Regions from separate parts of the Homo sapiens genome. Here region 2 is linked to region 1. Evidence: fine-mapped QTL for protein levels in blood plasma. Region 1 holds a variant in brackets. A gene starts in the other region. All regions are shown on their reverse strands. Region 1 overlaps IFITM3-AS1 (IFITM3 antisense RNA 1). Region 2 holds the start of FAP (fibroblast activation protein alpha).

Evidence for each region. PIP is the posterior inclusion probability: the model's chance that the variant is causal. The UK Biobank Pharma Proteomics Project read protein levels with antibody pairs (Olink). The fine-mapping took linkage between variants from a reference panel, not from the people measured, so its PIPs are less certain.
Region 2: FAP starts here. The variant in region 1 is fine-mapped to the plasma level of the FAP protein (UK Biobank, PIP 0.94).

Annotation. Positions count from the first base shown.
Region 1 is chr11:322,925-331,224 of GRCh38, reverse strand. IFITM3-AS1 (IFITM3 antisense RNA 1) reads right to left here. Exons shown (of 5, transcript XR_007062540.1): 2 at 3,597-6,650; 3 at 1-1,242. Among named protein-coding and RNA genes, the nearest start is that of IFITM3, 6.2 kb to the right of the region's middle. RefSeq lists enhancers at 1-78, 3,689-3,738, 3,799-4,168, 4,589-4,728. The variant C/G (reference allele first, on the strand shown) is at 4,841.
Region 2 is chr2:162,239,344-162,247,613 of GRCh38, reverse strand. FAP (fibroblast activation protein alpha) reads left to right here and starts at 4,169. Exons shown (of 26, transcript NM_004460.5): 1 at 4,169-4,292; 2 at 4,622-4,706. The coding sequence starts at 4,287. LOC105373724 (a long non-coding RNA gene) reads right to left here and starts at 1,497. Exons shown (of 4, transcript XR_923544.3): 1 at 1,443-1,497.

The DNA.
Region 1 (8,300 bases):
GGCAGTTGCCTCTTTTAACCCACAAAGTACCCCCCGGGTTTTCTCGGTTTCCTTTCGCACCTGCTCACCCACCGGCCAGTTCTCTCCTGAGCTCATGATGCCAAAACCCACATCCGGCCGCAGACAGCACCCGCAGAACATTCGCTGCCCGGCCTCAGAGTCCAGGGCTCACATTTATTAGGTTCTTGCTCCGCCTTCCAAACACCCCACCACGTCCTCCCTGCTCCGCCTGGCCCGGGCAGCACTGCCCCGAGTCAGCCAGGATGAGCCAGGCTGTGCGGTGGTAACGAACGGCCCGACCCTCAGCCGCTGACTCCCTCCAGTGTGGGCCTGTGGCAGGTGTGGGGTCTGCGCCTCGTCCTCGCCCAGCCGCCCAGGTTGGGGAGCCCCCAGCGTGTGCTGCCAGGCCTCCGAGGTGGGAACGGGAGGTGGAGTCACGCCTGATCTCTTGGCACCACCTCTCATGCCCACAACATCTCACTGGCCACCTCAAGTGACAAGCTCATGCCAAGCTGCAAAGGGGTGGGAAAGAAAGATTCCAGCAAGAAAGCTGGAGGCTTGGGGAACAGCACTGATGGGCCTCCCCGTGCACCTCGGGCGCCTTGAGGCACTGCACGTGCTGTGGGGTGTGTGCCTGTGAAGAGGGCAGGGCCGCACTTGGGAGGGAGAGAAGGGGAGTCGCTGCCCCGGGGAACAGCAGCTGCATTAGAGCAAGAAGGTCAGGGCACCCCCATGGGGCTGTTCGACCGGAAGCTCGAGGAAGGGGCTTTTCACCCTCGTTCTGACCCAGAGCTTCTCTGAATCTGTCCTGACCGTCTGCAGGCATTGGTGAAGCTGGCCCAGCAGCTCCTGGAAGGCACCCTCTAGCTGCAACTCCAAAGGGGCTTTTCGGCTGCAGCTCCCACCACGGCTGCTGAAGAAAGGGCTTGGGAAGGAAGGCGCTGTGGCCATCCTGAGATGCAACCTCATTCTCCACTCTGAGCCTGCAGAAAGACAGGGCGCCCACTTACAGAGACAATTTCAGATTGCTTTTGTGGAAGATGAATGCTCAGATGCTCTTTATTTCTCTGTGAATTAAAACCCTAATTTAAACATTAGCTGGGCATGCTAATGTGTGTGTTACTTGGGAGTTCCAGCTACTCGGGAGGCTGAGACAGGAGGATTGCTTGAGCCCAGGAGGTGGAGTCTGCAGTGATCTGTGATGGTGCCACTGCACTTCAGCCTGGGTGACAGAGTGAGACCCTGTTTCAAACAAAGAAACAAAACCCACAAACCAAAACAAAACAAAACAAAACTCTATTTATTCCTCACTCTATTTTTTGGCCATTGAGAGACCCCACAGAGACTTGCTTTTTCCTTAAACTGCTAAGTCACAAAGTTCTAGAGCTTACTGTGAGAAACAAACTCACTCGCCCGAACCCAAAGAATGGATTTAGAAACGCAGAAGACAGCAAAAGTGAGACTTTTGATGACGGTCTTGCAAGATCAGGTATCTATCTGATGGGCAGGCACTCACAGCACAGTCACAACCAGCGATTTATCTCCCAGTGCACAGGCCCCTCCCCTGCATCCTCATAGGCTGAGTACTGTGGGGTCACAGTCTTCCCATTGGTTGTTGGGCAGCAGCTTTAGGTGTCTTCTTTTGGGTTGTCCTGCTGCATTTTGTTGCAGCCCACAATGCATTGCAATCCCAGTCAGCCCAGGGGCTCTGCGTATTTGACTTATGAGCTAAGTAGCTGGGCAGGCTGATAAGGACAGACAAACCGAGCTATTTTGCAGGCTAGTAAACTTTTATCTTAGACGAAACTTCCCTGGTTTGGGTAAGGGCAACTAAGTGGAGGGAGAAGGGGAGGGAGAAGGCTGACAAGAAGGCATCAGCTATCCAAGCAGGGGCCTAGTATATCCTGTTTCTTCTGTAGTTTGCTGACCTAAGCTGATTTAAGGCACTTTGTCTTGGAAATGGACCACTGTATACATTATTTCCTTCACTTACTTAGGAAGAAGAAGACAGGCCGGGCGCGGTGGCTCACACCTGTAATCCCAGCACTTTGGGAGGCCGAGGCGGCCAGATCACAAGGTCAGGAGATTGAGACCATCCTGGCTAACAGGGTGAAATTCTATCTGTACTAAAAATACAAAAAATTAGCCAGGCGTGGTGGCGGGTGCCTGTAGTCACAGCTACTCAGAAGGCTGAGGCAGGAGAATGGTGTGAACCTGGGAGGCATAGCTTGCAGTGAGCTGAGATTGCGCCACTGCACTCCAGTCTGGACGACAGAGCGAGACTCCGTCTCAGGAAAAAAAAAAAAAAAAAAAAGAAGAAGATATATTTTTTTACAATCTAGATAAATTTTTAAAAAATCAGTTTGTGGGTAGGCATGGTGGCACACACCTGTAATCCCAGCACTTTGGGAGGCTGAGACAGGCAGATCACCTGAGGTCGGGAGTTCGAGACCAGCCTGACCAACATGGAGAAATCCCGTCTCTACCAAAAGTACAAAATTAGCCGGGCGTGGTGGCTCATGCCTGTAATCTCATCTACTTGGGAGGCTGAGGCTGGGAATTGCTTGAACCCGGGAGGCAGAGGTTGCGGTGAGCCGAGATCACGCCATTGCACTCCAGCCTGGGTAACAAGGGTGAGATTCCATCTCAAAAAAAAAAATTGGTTTTGATTGGGTGTTAATTTGAGTAGGTTCACAGAAATATCAACCTTATTTTCCTGTGCAGTGAGAACATTTTGTTTTCCTAATGATGACCAGGTTGTTCTCATCTCTCTGATTATTAGCCTGTCCTTGGAAACCATTAGAAAAAGTCTTAAGATTCCCAAGATGTCAGGTACAAATGCCACCTTCTGAAGTTATCGTGTTTGAACGGCAGTGGGGAAGCCACTTGAAGCACTCACACCAAGGCGGGGGTCAGGGACTGGCAGCAGCGAGCCCCCGCTGCCCACTGCCCAGAGGCCTGCCCCGTGCCATACGAGGCATATTTGGGGAAGGCTCCAAGCCTCAAAGATACAGCTCCTTTGTGGCCAGGAGACCCAGCTCTAATTCAAGAAAGAAGTGAACCCCTGAGAGGAAGCCGGAGTCCTGGGGGACTTGCGGGAGCAGATCTCCAGGCCAGGACCCTCACTTCTGGATGCACGGCGGCTCCCCCTGCAATGCCGCCAGTGGAAGGGGCCAGTGACATGAGCGAAGAGGGTGGGCCCTGCACACCCAATGCTAAATCTTCCAGTACCAATGTTTCTAAAAAAGCAAAAGTAAATGGGTGATATTTGTTTTAATAATCTATTTTTTAAAATTTTAATTAAAAAAATTTTTTACTGATTTAATTTTAATTAATTAATTGTTTTTAGAGGTGGGGTCTCTGTCATCCATGCTGGAGGGCAGTGGCACCATTACAGCTCACGGCAGCCTCAACCACCCGGCCTCAAGCGATCCTCTTGCCTTGGCCTCCCAGTGCTGGGATTACAGGAGTGAGCCACCATGCCTGGCCAGCAATCTACTTAAACAAACATATCCAAAATAGTTTCTCAACATATCATCAACAAAATATACTATTGATGAAATACTGACATTTTACAAAGAAATTTTTTTTCTCACCAAATCTTCAAAATCCAGCATGAGCTTTGCACTCACAGCAGTTTGAGAATGGAACTGGCCACGTTCCAAGGGCTCGGTGGCCACAGGGAGCTCCTCAGAGCGCAGCCAGGCCAGAGGCTGCACCGAGGTGCAGAATCAGAGGAGGCACCGGAGACCCCAGAGTCCAGTCTGAGACGGCACAGGGAGCAGGTCTCTGGTGGCCTTGACAAGCTCCAGGATAGGGTGGGGAGGGGACTGGACCCTGGGGACCTCAGAGCAGAGCAGGGGAAACAGGAGCCCCCACCTGGGGAGAGGGGGCCTCCTCTCCAGGAACCCCAATCAAGACGAGCCTCACGTGACTCCCACTTCCTCTTGGAGGGTGCAGGGGCCTCTCCTGAGGTGAGTTTTGTTTCTGATTTTTTCAGGGGAAACTTCTCAGCACATTGTCCTTGGCCAGATGCCACAGGAGCCGCTGACCCAGTGACGTCACCTCATTCTGCTCAGATCGCACCCCCTGTCCGTGGGGCACTGAGGCAGGAAGAGGAAACTGCTGTAATCTCAGGAAGCTTTTGGCCAGTGGGGCCCTAGAGCCCTGCCCAAGCCCTACTGGGTGTGGCCCCGAGTCCAGGAACCCCCCTCCCCCCTGACCCTCATGTCCCCTCGACCTCTGTGGCATTTTATAAAACAAAGGGGCCCCGGAAAGCGGAAGGAGGGGGTCACACGTGTGAGCCCTGAGCACCGAAGCTGCCCCCACAGGCCCTGGAATCCTCCCCGTGTCCAAAGACAGCCTCCTCTTCAGTCAGTGCTCCCTGTCGTCCCCGGTCCTGGGCCTGGAGGGCTGCTGTGGGGCAGGAGCAGTGGCCACTGGGTCTCTGACCTGCACCAGGAGACACGGGGAGGCTTAGGCCTCTGAACCCACATAGAGCAGGACCGCAGCCCCAGAAAAGGGAAGATTTCAGCAGAGGAGGCCTGTGACGAGAGAGGCGAAGGCTTGAGGGGCTCCCTGTGGGGCCTGGAGTGTGGAAGCCCCATTGGGGCCTGGCAGGGACCTGTACCAAGACAGTGAGGTCCTGCAGCAGCTGGGGTGAGGAGAGGAGACTCCCAGGCCTGGTAAAGCGCACAGGGGCCTCTGGCACCCCTACAAGAGGAGGTTGGAGTCACCTGACGCTGTCCTGATGCGGCTCCTGCAGAGAAGACTCCTTACTTAGCCCACAGTGCTTCTACCCGCCCTGACACCGTCCTGATGGGGTCCTGCAGAGAAGCCT[C/G]CTTACTTAGCCTACAGTTTTTCCACACGCCCTGACACCGTCCTGATGGGGTCCTGCAGAGAAGCCTGCTTACTTAGCCTACAGTGTTTCCACACGCCCTGACACCGTCCTGATGGGGTCCTGCAGAGAAGCCTCCTTAGCCCACAGTGCTTCTACCCACCCTCAATGTATAACTTCACGTTCAGAAATGTGTTACCCCCCTCCTCAGACCTCACACAATTCACGAATTTCCAAACAGCAGGAAACAGAAACTTCTAAGAAAGCAGAACCCTTGAGTCCAGGTGGGAGAAGGTGCCTGAGAAAACAGCCCTGCCAGAGACAGTACCCCAGCATCCGGACGTTACTCCACAGACGGCCACGTAAGAGACCAGGAACCACCCTTCCCACGGTACCCCAGCGTCCGGACGCTACTCCACAGACGGCCACGTAAGAGACCGGGAACCACCCTTCCCACGGTACCCCAGCGTCCGGACGCTACTCCACAGACGGCCACGTAAGAGACCAGGAACCACACTTCCCAAGCCTTCTGCACTCCCAAAAACATCAGCTTCCCGGAAACCTGAGACATGCTCAAGGAAGAGCACGGTGTGAAGTCAGCTGTGGGTGGAGGATGACCCAGGTGCCCAGGCAAGAGACTGAAGGCACAAACTGTTTCAGTATAATAAAGAAAATGGAATAAGAACAGTCATAGAGTCATAACACAAATTAGATATAGAGATGATCACGGACAATTATCAATCGTTATTATAAACATTATTAATCATTAGCTTTTAATATTACTCTTTGTTCCATTACTATATAACCTGGGAATAACCGGCGGGTATAGGGTCAGGTGCTGAAGGGACGTTGTGAGAAGTGACCTAGAAGGCAAGAGGTGAGCCCTCTGTCACGCCAACATAAGGGCCGCTTGAGGGCTCCTTGGTCAAGCGGTAACGCCAGTGCCTGGGAAGGCACCCGTTACTTAGCCGACCGTGAAAGGGAGTCTCCTTTCCTTGGAGGAGTCAGGGAACACTCTGCTCCGCCAGCTTCTTGTGGGAGGCTGGATATTCTCCAGGCCTGGCCTGCAGTCATCCGGAGGCCTAACCCCCTCCCTGTGGTGCTTGAATGATCACACTCCTTGTCCACTTTCATGCTCTTCCCGTACTCCTGGTTCCTCTTTGAAGTTCGTAGTAGATAGCGGTAGAAGAAATAGTGAAAGTCTTAAAGTCTTTGATTGTTCTTATAAGTGCATAGAAGAAAACGCTGACGTATGCTGCCTTCTCTCTCTGCTCGGCTACCTAAGAGGGAAAGGCCCCCTGTCCTATGATCACGTGACTTGCTTCACCTTATCAATTACTTGGACGACTCACCGTCCGTACCCTGCCCCCTTGTCTTGTATTCAATAAATATCAGCGCAGCCAGCCGTTCGGAGCCACTAGCGGTCTCCATGTCTTGGTGGTAGTGGTCCCCTGGGCCCAGCTGTTTTCTCTTTATCTGTTTGTCTTGTGTCTTTATTTCTTACGATCTCTTGTCTCTGCACACGGGGAGAACACCCGCTAAGCCCCCGTAGGGCTGGACCCTACACAGGAAGTCCCCTTCATTGCTGTGTGGACGTGGTAGATAAAGTGTTCTCAAGCTGGAAAGATTTAACAGATTGGCCCCTCGGGGACCTGGACATTGAATATTTTACTGATGGAAGCAGTTTCGTACTAAGGGGAGTCTGCCGAGCTGGGTATGCCGCGGTGACTTTGGACTCAGCAGTAGAGGTACCGTCTCTGTCTGCAGAAACTTCTGCTTAGAAAGCAGAGCTAATAGCTCTGACAAGAGCTCTCTGGCTAGGAAAAGAGCAGAAGGCAAGTATTTACACAGATTCCAAATATGCTTCTGCCACTTTGCATGTTCATGAGGCTGTTTACAAAGAATAAAAGACTTTTAACGGCTGGAAGTGAAAAAACAAAGTATAAGGAGGAAATTCCACCTCTGTTAAACGCTGTGTGGGCCCTGGAAGAGGTGGCAGTGATGCGCTGCAGGAGGCCCCGAAAAGCAGCAAAGCAGAAAGGCAGACGAAGAGGCAAACGGGCTGCAACGACAACTCCACCTTCTAGAGAGGAAGCCTTAGCTATGCCTCCCGCTCCCGGAGATTCCCCTCCTGGGGATCCCAAGGTCCCCTCCAAACGAAAAGTCTTGGTTTGCCCACAAGAATAAGAACTACATTGAAGAAAGATGGTAAAAATTTTCCAACGGGAGGCTAGCCATACCTGGAATGGTGGCCCTCAGATTTGTAAAACAGTTCCACTGGAAAAAAAACCCAAAAAACCAGCACTAAAGACGTTATTAAGGCATCATTTCTTTTTTTTTTTTTTTTGAGACAGAGTCTCGCTCTATCCCCCAGGCTGGAGTGCTGTGGCGTGATCTCGGCTCACTGCAAGCTCCGCCTCCCAGGTTCACGCCATTCTCCTGCCTCAGCCTCCCATGTAGCTGGGACCACAGGTGCCCGCCACCACACCCGGCTAATTTTTTTTGTATTTTTAGTAGAGACGGGGTTTCACGTGTTAGTCTCGATCTCCCGACCTTGTGATCCGCCCACCTCGGCCTCCCAAAGTGCTGGGATTACAGGCGTGAGCCACCGCGCCTGGCCCTGTTAAGGCATCATTTCTATGTGCCATGGCTCACTGCTATTACTCGAGCCATTTGTAAACAAATGGTGTTAAATTCGTGCTCAGAACAATGCATGACAAGGGCCTACTCGGCCCCCAGGAGTTCAGGAAACAGGAGCCAGGCAGCCATACCCTGTGAAAAACTGTGGTACGGACTTCGAGGAAGTACCCTGAGAGGGGGGTTATCAGTGCACGTGGGTGTTCATTTGCACCTTTTCAGGAGGTTGAGGCCTTCCCCACCCGGACAGAGAAGGCACTAGAAGTAACCAAGGTGTTGTTAAGAGACATTATTCCCAGATTTGGACTGCCTCTAACTCTAAGATCAGACAATAGCCCAATATTTATGGCTGAAATAGTTCAGGACTTAACTTGATTATTAAAAATAAAGTGGAAATTACATACAGCTTACAGGCTGCAGAGCTCAGGTAAAGTGGAATGCATGAACTGGACACTCAAGCAGCTGCTAAAGAAATTTTGTCAAGAGCTGGGCGCGGTGGCTCACGCCTGTAATCCCAGCCCTTTGGGAGGCCGAGGCGGGCGGATCATGAGGTCAGGAGATCGAGACCATCCTGGCTAACACGTGAAACCCCGTCTCTACTACAAACACAAAAAGTCAGCCGGGTGTGGTGGCAGACGCCTGTAGTCCCAGCTACTCAGGAGGCTGAGGCAGGAGAATGGCGTGAACCTGGGAGGCGGAGCTTGCAGTGAGCCGAGATCGTGCCACTGCACTCCAGCCTGGGCGACAGAGCAAGACTCCGACTCAAAAAAATAAATAAATAAAATAAATAATAACAATAAAAGGCCTCAGAGGGGAAGGGAATGAG
Region 2 (8,270 bases), not on the chromosome of region 1:
AAAAACAATATGTGTTAACAAGTTATGTTAGTCTATAGGTGCTTACACATTCTATTTATACTATTTAAACAGTCTTCTTGTTGGTTAACCACTTCTAAAAAGATGTAGTATTTCCCTATTTAAATGACAATGAAGCACTGATTTATCTTCTGAGTCTTTGTGTCCTCAGCACTCAAAGAAATGGGTTGTGTCTCTGTTCTGTTTCTTTTCTAACCCCATTTTGATAGTTAACCCTTTGGGTCTCCAAGGAGCACTTGCCCTAATTATGATAGGATAATGAAACACTGACATCTAATTATAACATTTATGAAGGTAGTAGATGCCAATTACAAACTAGGAGGCATGTGGCTTTATATTCTTCCTTATGTAACAATTGTGGTTTTAGAAAAGAGATCAGATTCAAAAAATAGTTTGAGCTATATCATTTCCCACTGATGCTATATTATGCCACTTCTTCCAGATCTATAACTATGTGATAGTTATTTTGAGCTTTGAAGACCTCAGGACTCTTTCTAGCTTGGAACTCAAAAATCTCTTTGACGATGGGTATTTTGTTGAATCCTTTCATTTAAGCAAGTCCCTGGAGGAAGAGCTTTTAACCCAGGCACTATATAAATAATCATCGGATTAATAGACCCCGATTAAAAAAAAACTGTAAACAAATTAATATTTTGAACACAGTCCTTGTAGAGTGAAATTGTGTTCTTTTGAGATATGTGTAACAAAGTACTTTGAGGATGTGAACATCATTAATATTTTAGCCTTAATTATTTTACCCTCACAACCTTAAGTGTCCCCCAACAGCAAATCAGTGAAATGTCAATTATAATTTTAAAAAAAATTTATCACTTTGGAATAAAACTTTAGGAAGTATCACAAAGAAGCAATGTAAGGTGGTAACACTGGGTCCTGTTAAAATCTTGGGCAAGTTATCCAGTTTTTCTAGGCTGTTTCCTAATCATCAAAATGAGTTTTGGTATGGATCAGATGAAATAATGCATTAAAATCACTTTGTAGATAACAGTAAACAATAAATGTTTATTGAATCTGAGGAATCAAATGGGTAGGATGTTAGGAGCTGTTAGGCTCTCTAGAAGCAAATTTTTACTTTAAAGAGTATAAAATCAGGCTTATGTTTACTGCACTTGTATCCTTATTCCCCTTGTAACTTGTCCTTAAATAATTTGTCATGGCTTTTGGTTAATAAACACATCTCTCTTTCATCTCCCCACCATAAAATAAAAAGATAACATCCTTATGCTCTCAGCATGGTCTTACCTTCAGACTCTAGAAATACATAGCTGGATGTGTTTTCTGGGAAAACATATAAATTAAAATCATTTTTGGCAGGTAAACATTGGCTACTAATAAATAGTTCTAGTAAGCTCTCCTCCTTATAACCTAAGGATTTATGTTATAGCTCACTTATCCAGTGGGCTTACCAGAATGCAGTCATATTCCAAAGTCAGCCTTACAAGGTCCCTCTCTGGAAAGAACTCAGTTGATGAGCCTCTACTCTCCTAATTGCTGCCCTTACATTTTTACATGACAAATCATCATCCTTTCTGGTTTTGCAGCATTTTAATAGACCCAGAGTTGCTTTCTGAGAAAAGTCTCAGTACTAACAAAGGTTAGAACTAACAAAGGTTGAACTAAGGATGACATGCATGTGGTATGTGCCCTTTCCAGTCCTCTTCCCAGGTCCATGAAGAAATCACCAACCAGTGAGAACACTCTTTCTACAGAACACAAACTCAGCTTCAGGCTATTTCTGAACAAGAGCTTTAGGAAGCAAAAGGAAACAAGTATGTAAGAACATTAAGAACATACCTGCCATACTTATACTAGAATGTAAGTTCCTTAAGGGCACAGACTGTGTCTGATTCATTTTTGTTTTCTCAACAAAAATGTTGATGGGGTGTTAACTAATTGTATAAAGTAGGAATAAGAGTCAGTTTCGTAAATGTTTTTTAAAAGTTGACAAAAGTATTTTCATTTTGATTCCAAAATTAAAAAAAGCTAATAAAGATATTACAATATTTTAAAAATCCAAATTTTATGAGAGTTCTTGTCTGGATGAAAATTAGAATACATTCACATTATCTCAAACGAATGAACATGTGTGACTTTATAAAAACAATACCTCCCTAAACCATGAATTCAGATGGAAAAACTCGACATCTTTATTTCTGCAGTCAGTCTCATTTTTCTTAAAACAGTTCAAACTAGTAAGAATTTTCCAGAAGTTACAGCTTGACTCACCCAACCTTCCAAGGAAAAAACAAAAAAACTTAAACAGACATTGTTTCACTCTCATCATTTCCCACCCTTACTAATAGTGGCAACTTAAGTGTATCTTAAAGCACTCCAACCTCTTCATAGAGCCTATTAAATGAGTATCTTGTGGACACCCACACACAGTCATAGAATCCTAAGTGGTGCTCAGACCAGTCACATGTCAGTGCATTCTTAATTGCTAGAGCTAACATGCTCTCAGCATGGTCTTTTAATTACACCCTAATAATTTATTATAGTTTCTCTCTACAATGTAAAGTCTTGGAAATCACCCACTAAAAAGTGCCTGTGTACTCTGGGGCTTTGGCAGGCTAGGGCAGAACTTCTGAGAACACGGTGTGTTCCAGAGAAGACAATCAATCTGAGAGGACTTACACAGAAACAGTTCATTCAGGACCTGGCTGCTGGCTTTTATCTGAGATCTGAGGATTTCACAATCACTTGGAGATACCTACAAGTGTATAGCACACCTTGGATATTACTCTTAATGATTACTTCATTTTGTAAAGAGGTGACTCCACCAACAGCAAAGGAGAGGGCCCAGCCCCAGCCACCAGGAATACAGTTCTCTGCCAGTAAGTGCCTAATGACTCATTTTCCTCAACAGAATTTTCATAAGGCTGGAATTCAGGGAGGGATGTCTGGAGAATGTCTGAAAGGAAGTTCACAAGCCACTGTCCTGCTCTTTGCTGGAGAAAGTGTCCCGTGGTAGCCAGAGAAGTTGACTAAGGCAAACAGCAACATGTTTTGGTAACATTTCCCCATTACCTTTCATGTACAATCCAAGAAAGGTTGCCATGAAGTGTTTTAATCAGGTTGGGAACATTATAAACTTCGAAAAAAGAAAACCATTAGTGGAAAAATTAAGGACACAGTAGATTTAACAACTGTGTTTACGTGGAACCACAAAATCTATCCAAGTGAATTGCATTAAAACAGACAGAACACTCCAAGAAACTGTTGTATGTGTATTTTTTTTAATTCAGTCAACCATTTTACTAATCTGTCAAGATGACCAATTTCTTTGGAATTATGTAGATTTAGCCAAAATGAAATTATACATAAGATTTACTTTTCTTTTCAGATGCTTTTTTATTTATTTTTAAATCTTTATAATTACTAGATGTTCTCCTCTCTCAGAAGATATTCTGAGAGGAAAGCAAAAATACCACTCTTGTAAAGCCATTTCCATTCTTCCAAAGGTCTGCTGGTAAATTATTCTTACTGATCTTTCCATCTTTCTAGCCTGTGCATACACACCTAACCCATACTAAATTTCACCAGATGGCATTTTATTTCTTTAAAGTAAAGCAGCCGTGGGTTTAGACAGTTGAATTTTTAAACTTCTGTATTTACTGAAAGTGCATATGGTGCTATATGGACAAAGAAATTGTGCTGAAAGAAAAACATTTCTGTCTGCAATACCTCATAATCTTCCAGAGGAAAAAAAAGTGCAGTTATATGGCACATTTCTCACAAAATCTTATGTGGCTTCAATGTTCTTCCTCTGTTAAAAAGTAGATATATGTTTAATGTACAGACCTGCAAGTTTCATTATTTTAAATTCATCTTTTAGTGGCAAATAAAAATGTTATGCAAAACCCAATGACTTGCTAAAGTGATCCTTCAGTGAATTCTAGAAGAAAATGCAACATAAACCTGAACTGGTAAAAAAGAAAAAATAAAAACCTCTGTATGTCAACGTAAGCAGATGTTGGTGTAGTTACAAGGATGAGAAGGCTATAAAACTTCCCTTGAGTCACTCACAGTTCATTTGAGGGCCAAGAACGCCCCCAAAATCTGTTTCTAATTTTACAGAAATCTTTTGAAACTTGGCACGGTATTCAAAAGTCCGTGGAAAGAAAAAAACCTTGTCCTGGCTTCAGCTTCCAACTACAAAGACAGACTTGGTCCTTTTCAACGGTTTTCACAGATCCAGTGACCCACGCTCTGAAGACAGAATTAGCTAACTTTCAAAAACATCTGGAAAAATGAAGGTTAGTATAAGCAACCTCAAGTATTCTTAAAAAATTAGGGTTGGCTGGATTGAACGTGATCAGAGTTTTCTATTGTTTAGAAGGTGAAGATTTGTACATAAGTATTTACTTCCTCAATGGGTTGGGATTGGAAAATTGTTCTAAATATACTGTAGAAACATTTGTCCTTGCAGAGCTGGAAGAATTCCAGCAATTATAGCCGGATCAGTGGAAAACAATCAAAAGCTTTGTGGGGCGAGAGAAAAAGGATTTAGGTGTAAACAAAATCTTGCCATTTCTACTATTTAGCAGGAACTGTGTGTATGCCTAATTCTCTTTATTTTATGTAGACTTGGGTAAAAATCGTATTTGGAGTTGCCACCTCTGCTGTGCTTGCCTTATTGGTGATGTGCATTGTCTTACGCCCTTCAAGAGGTAAGAACTTTCTCTGATTTGCTCTATCTGCCTAGAATAGCTTGGAAAATGTACTAATGCAAGATCACAAGTGGTTGAACATTTCCTAAGTGCTTATGTTCCAAAGTAAGTCTGTTATTTCTAAGAAGACATATAAGCTCACAGATATGTTGTTGTGCAAGACCAGAAATACTGAGGAATTTAAGGCATGGGTAGGAAGAGATTTACAGTGTTATTTCAGCAATAGAAAAACCTAAGAACTATGCTGCATCACCCCCACAACCCCCAAAAATATATGCTAAATACAAGCTTTGACAGGCCTTTAGAAACAACATTTTTAACTAACATTGCTTTTCATTATTAGGTTTGTCTCGTGGAAAGTAAAAATGAGTAAGAATGGAAAAGTTAAAACAGAATCTATGGACTTTTTTTATTACTAAATAGTCTTTCCAAAAATTTAGGGAGGAAGTTGAGAATACAGATCTCAGGAATAGCTGTATAGAAAAAGCAAAGTTGTTGTTTTAGATGTAGTAGCACTGCACATCAAATTAGAAAACCAAACATTGTTAAGCAAGCATTTTGATCAGTCATAAATTGGATCCTTTTACAAAAAAGGCTTAGATTGACACTGATCTCACTTTGCTAAAAATTGGAAGGTACTATGGGCTGATATCAGAGCTAGTTTAAATATAAAGTAGGACTATGTTGATAGATAATCTAGTGATATTAGGGAAATAGCTTTTTATGAAAATATTTATGAAGAGAAACTCAAGCTTCTGAAATGGAAAAAAAATCCAGTAATAACAGGTCTTATGTCTTTGTGTCTAGGAAAGGGGAAAAATTTGTACTAATAAATACTAAAAGTTTATGATAACAAATGTGGGAAATATCTTGGTTAAAAGTTAACTGATAGTAAATGAAGATCAATAAAATAACTTCAGCTAAAGAATGTATGAGTCCTGAATGACTGGACTGTTGCTATTAAAAAGAACATAGAAAAATGTTTTCGAAAATTAAAAATAATCATGAGATTTTCACAGAATTACAAAATAGAATAGGTTAACCCATAAGATGAAGTCAGCTGATATCTTCAGTGTTAATTTCAGTCTTTGTTTCTGCTCTCTGCCAGCACAAGATTCTTCTTAGGCTGTTGAGAGGTATGTAGTGTGTGTACATATCTTTCATAAATTTTCATGTTAAAATTGTTTTCAGACTCATCTCTGAACTCAGTGGTCTTGGGGCCACATTTCCCTCATACCAGCAATTGTCAGGTAGTGGATTAGGTCATATAGATCCTTTGAATGTTAATTCATTAAAAATTAGCTCCTGATTTTTAAAGAAACTCAACCTTGAAATTGATACTCTGCACCCTCAGAAATAAATGTTCTTGGAACAAAAGTTTGTTAATTTTATAGGGCACTTGCCTCCATGTCCATAGGGAAGGATGAATTTCACTATGGAATTCAAGCTATAATTTCTAATAAGAAATGCATTATATTTACATATTTACAAATGATGTATAGAGATACACATACACAGATATTTGTGTGATCACATATAATCTCAATCCCTACCCTCTTTCCAAGTTTAGTTATGTATAGCTTACATATAAATATACGTCGTAAACTATATATAGTATAAAAGTCCTATGTAATTTATAATACAATTCTATTTTCAACTAACAGGAAAATTCTAAGAATAAAGTGATTTCTTGATAGGGTGAAATAATCAAATTAAACTCAAGTACTCAGTGAAATTTGAGTACTCATTCAGAAATAGAAAAATCATAAATAAGGTGAGAACTGTTGTTTTTTGGTTCATTATATCATTCTCTTTCTCTTCTAAATTTGCTGAATAACTTCTCAGAATGTCAGCTAAACAGCTTGTGAATGGCACTAGTCATTACCCTACTTTCCTGAGCAGGACCCGGGGAAGTCAGTGCCACAGGCAGCCCTGAAGTTAGGCGTGGTGGCCTCCTAATTTTCCTCCTTTCTTCTCACATCTCACTGGTCAATCAATCATCTCCCGTCTGGAGTGCCAGGTCCAGTCCTCACTCTCACATCTGCCCAGTGCCTATGAGAATAGGATCTGAGATGGCAAGGCAGGAAAGGGAAGGAGGAAGGGGTAAAAAGAACAGAGAATTCAAAGCTAAGCGAGCTCCTACTTAGCCTCTTTCTCACATTCATCAGAAATCCCATTACTTCACATTTGCCTTAGGTGCCCTCATATCCTCAGCCCAGAATTTTATGCACCAGTGTATGAACTGTCTTCTTCTGAGAAACTTAAAGCCACACTCAGGAAACATTCATTCATTCATTTACATATTAGTGTATTAGTTCTACTAACTCCCTGCTCATCATCATGCCAGTTGCTGAGGATATGGAGGTGCAGCAGTCTAGAATTCCCTCTGCAAGTTGGGGAGTAAGAATCCAGTGCTTTCTGCACCCAAAGATGCATGGTCAGCACCACAGATACCAGAGAAGGATTTGTGTTATTTCACATCACGTCTAAAGGAAAGAAAAAAGAGAAAGGCTCTTCCATCCCAGGAGAACCAGCTTCAGGATTAAAAGGGTTTAGGAATAATTAAACTGGATTATAAGAACAAATATGAAATGTAGTAGTGAAATGAGAAAATCCATTTAGCTCACTTACAAAATATTAACTATAAGGAAAAACTTTTTTCGAAACTTGTAAAATATTCCCTTTTTAGTTTTGCCAAAGTGTGAAGCACACATGAATTTCTACCCCTTACTCCCAGGTTGTCCTTGCCTTCAGCTTACACCCCTTCAACTGACTCCTTTCCTCTCTCCTACCTCCATTCACTTTTTCTTTTGAGGTTCTTCTTCACAAGCATCACCCCTCTTCGTCTGTGAATATGCAACAAGGCTGAGAGTGGAAACTAAGCTCCTTGACTTCCCCTTATTTTTGTTCACCCCAAAGACAAACATAAAGACCTTCTTGCTTCAAGAGATTTAACAGAGGTTACAAAAGCAAAAAACTAGAAGTGAAAAGTTACAGAGGTTGCAGAATTTTGCAGGTAAATTCTACACAAACTTGATTCATGATTTATATTTTCTGAATACCTGGACCATTCCTCCTTGGCTTATAGAAAGAAATCATAGGAACTATTTGACCTCGTTTCAGATTCTTTTGAGTATAGAGTGCCCCACATGGTGATGAACAAATACTCAACAAATGTTAGTTATTTTTTTTCTAAAATTTCTAACATGTAGTAAATACTTCATAAATGATAGCATTTTGTGTCTGTGTTCTTCCATTGTTGAGAATATGTACTTCTACACTCAACAATAGCAACTATTCCATTCTGTGTGATGTATTTCAATTTCAAAAATGTCTTAATTCCGAGAGTAGAGAGCCTTTATCCCAGAATATCATCCCTGTTCCTATCCCCAACTTTTTTTTTTTAACCAAAAACAACAAATGTTTCAGAAACTTTTGTGTCTGAAGCACTCATACAGAACACTGATGGCTCTAGGGCAAAAGCAAAACAAAAGGAAAGAAGAAAGATATAAGAAGCTGAAGGGTGGAGGAATGGAGAATAAGGCTGAGTGAGAGTAAAAAAGG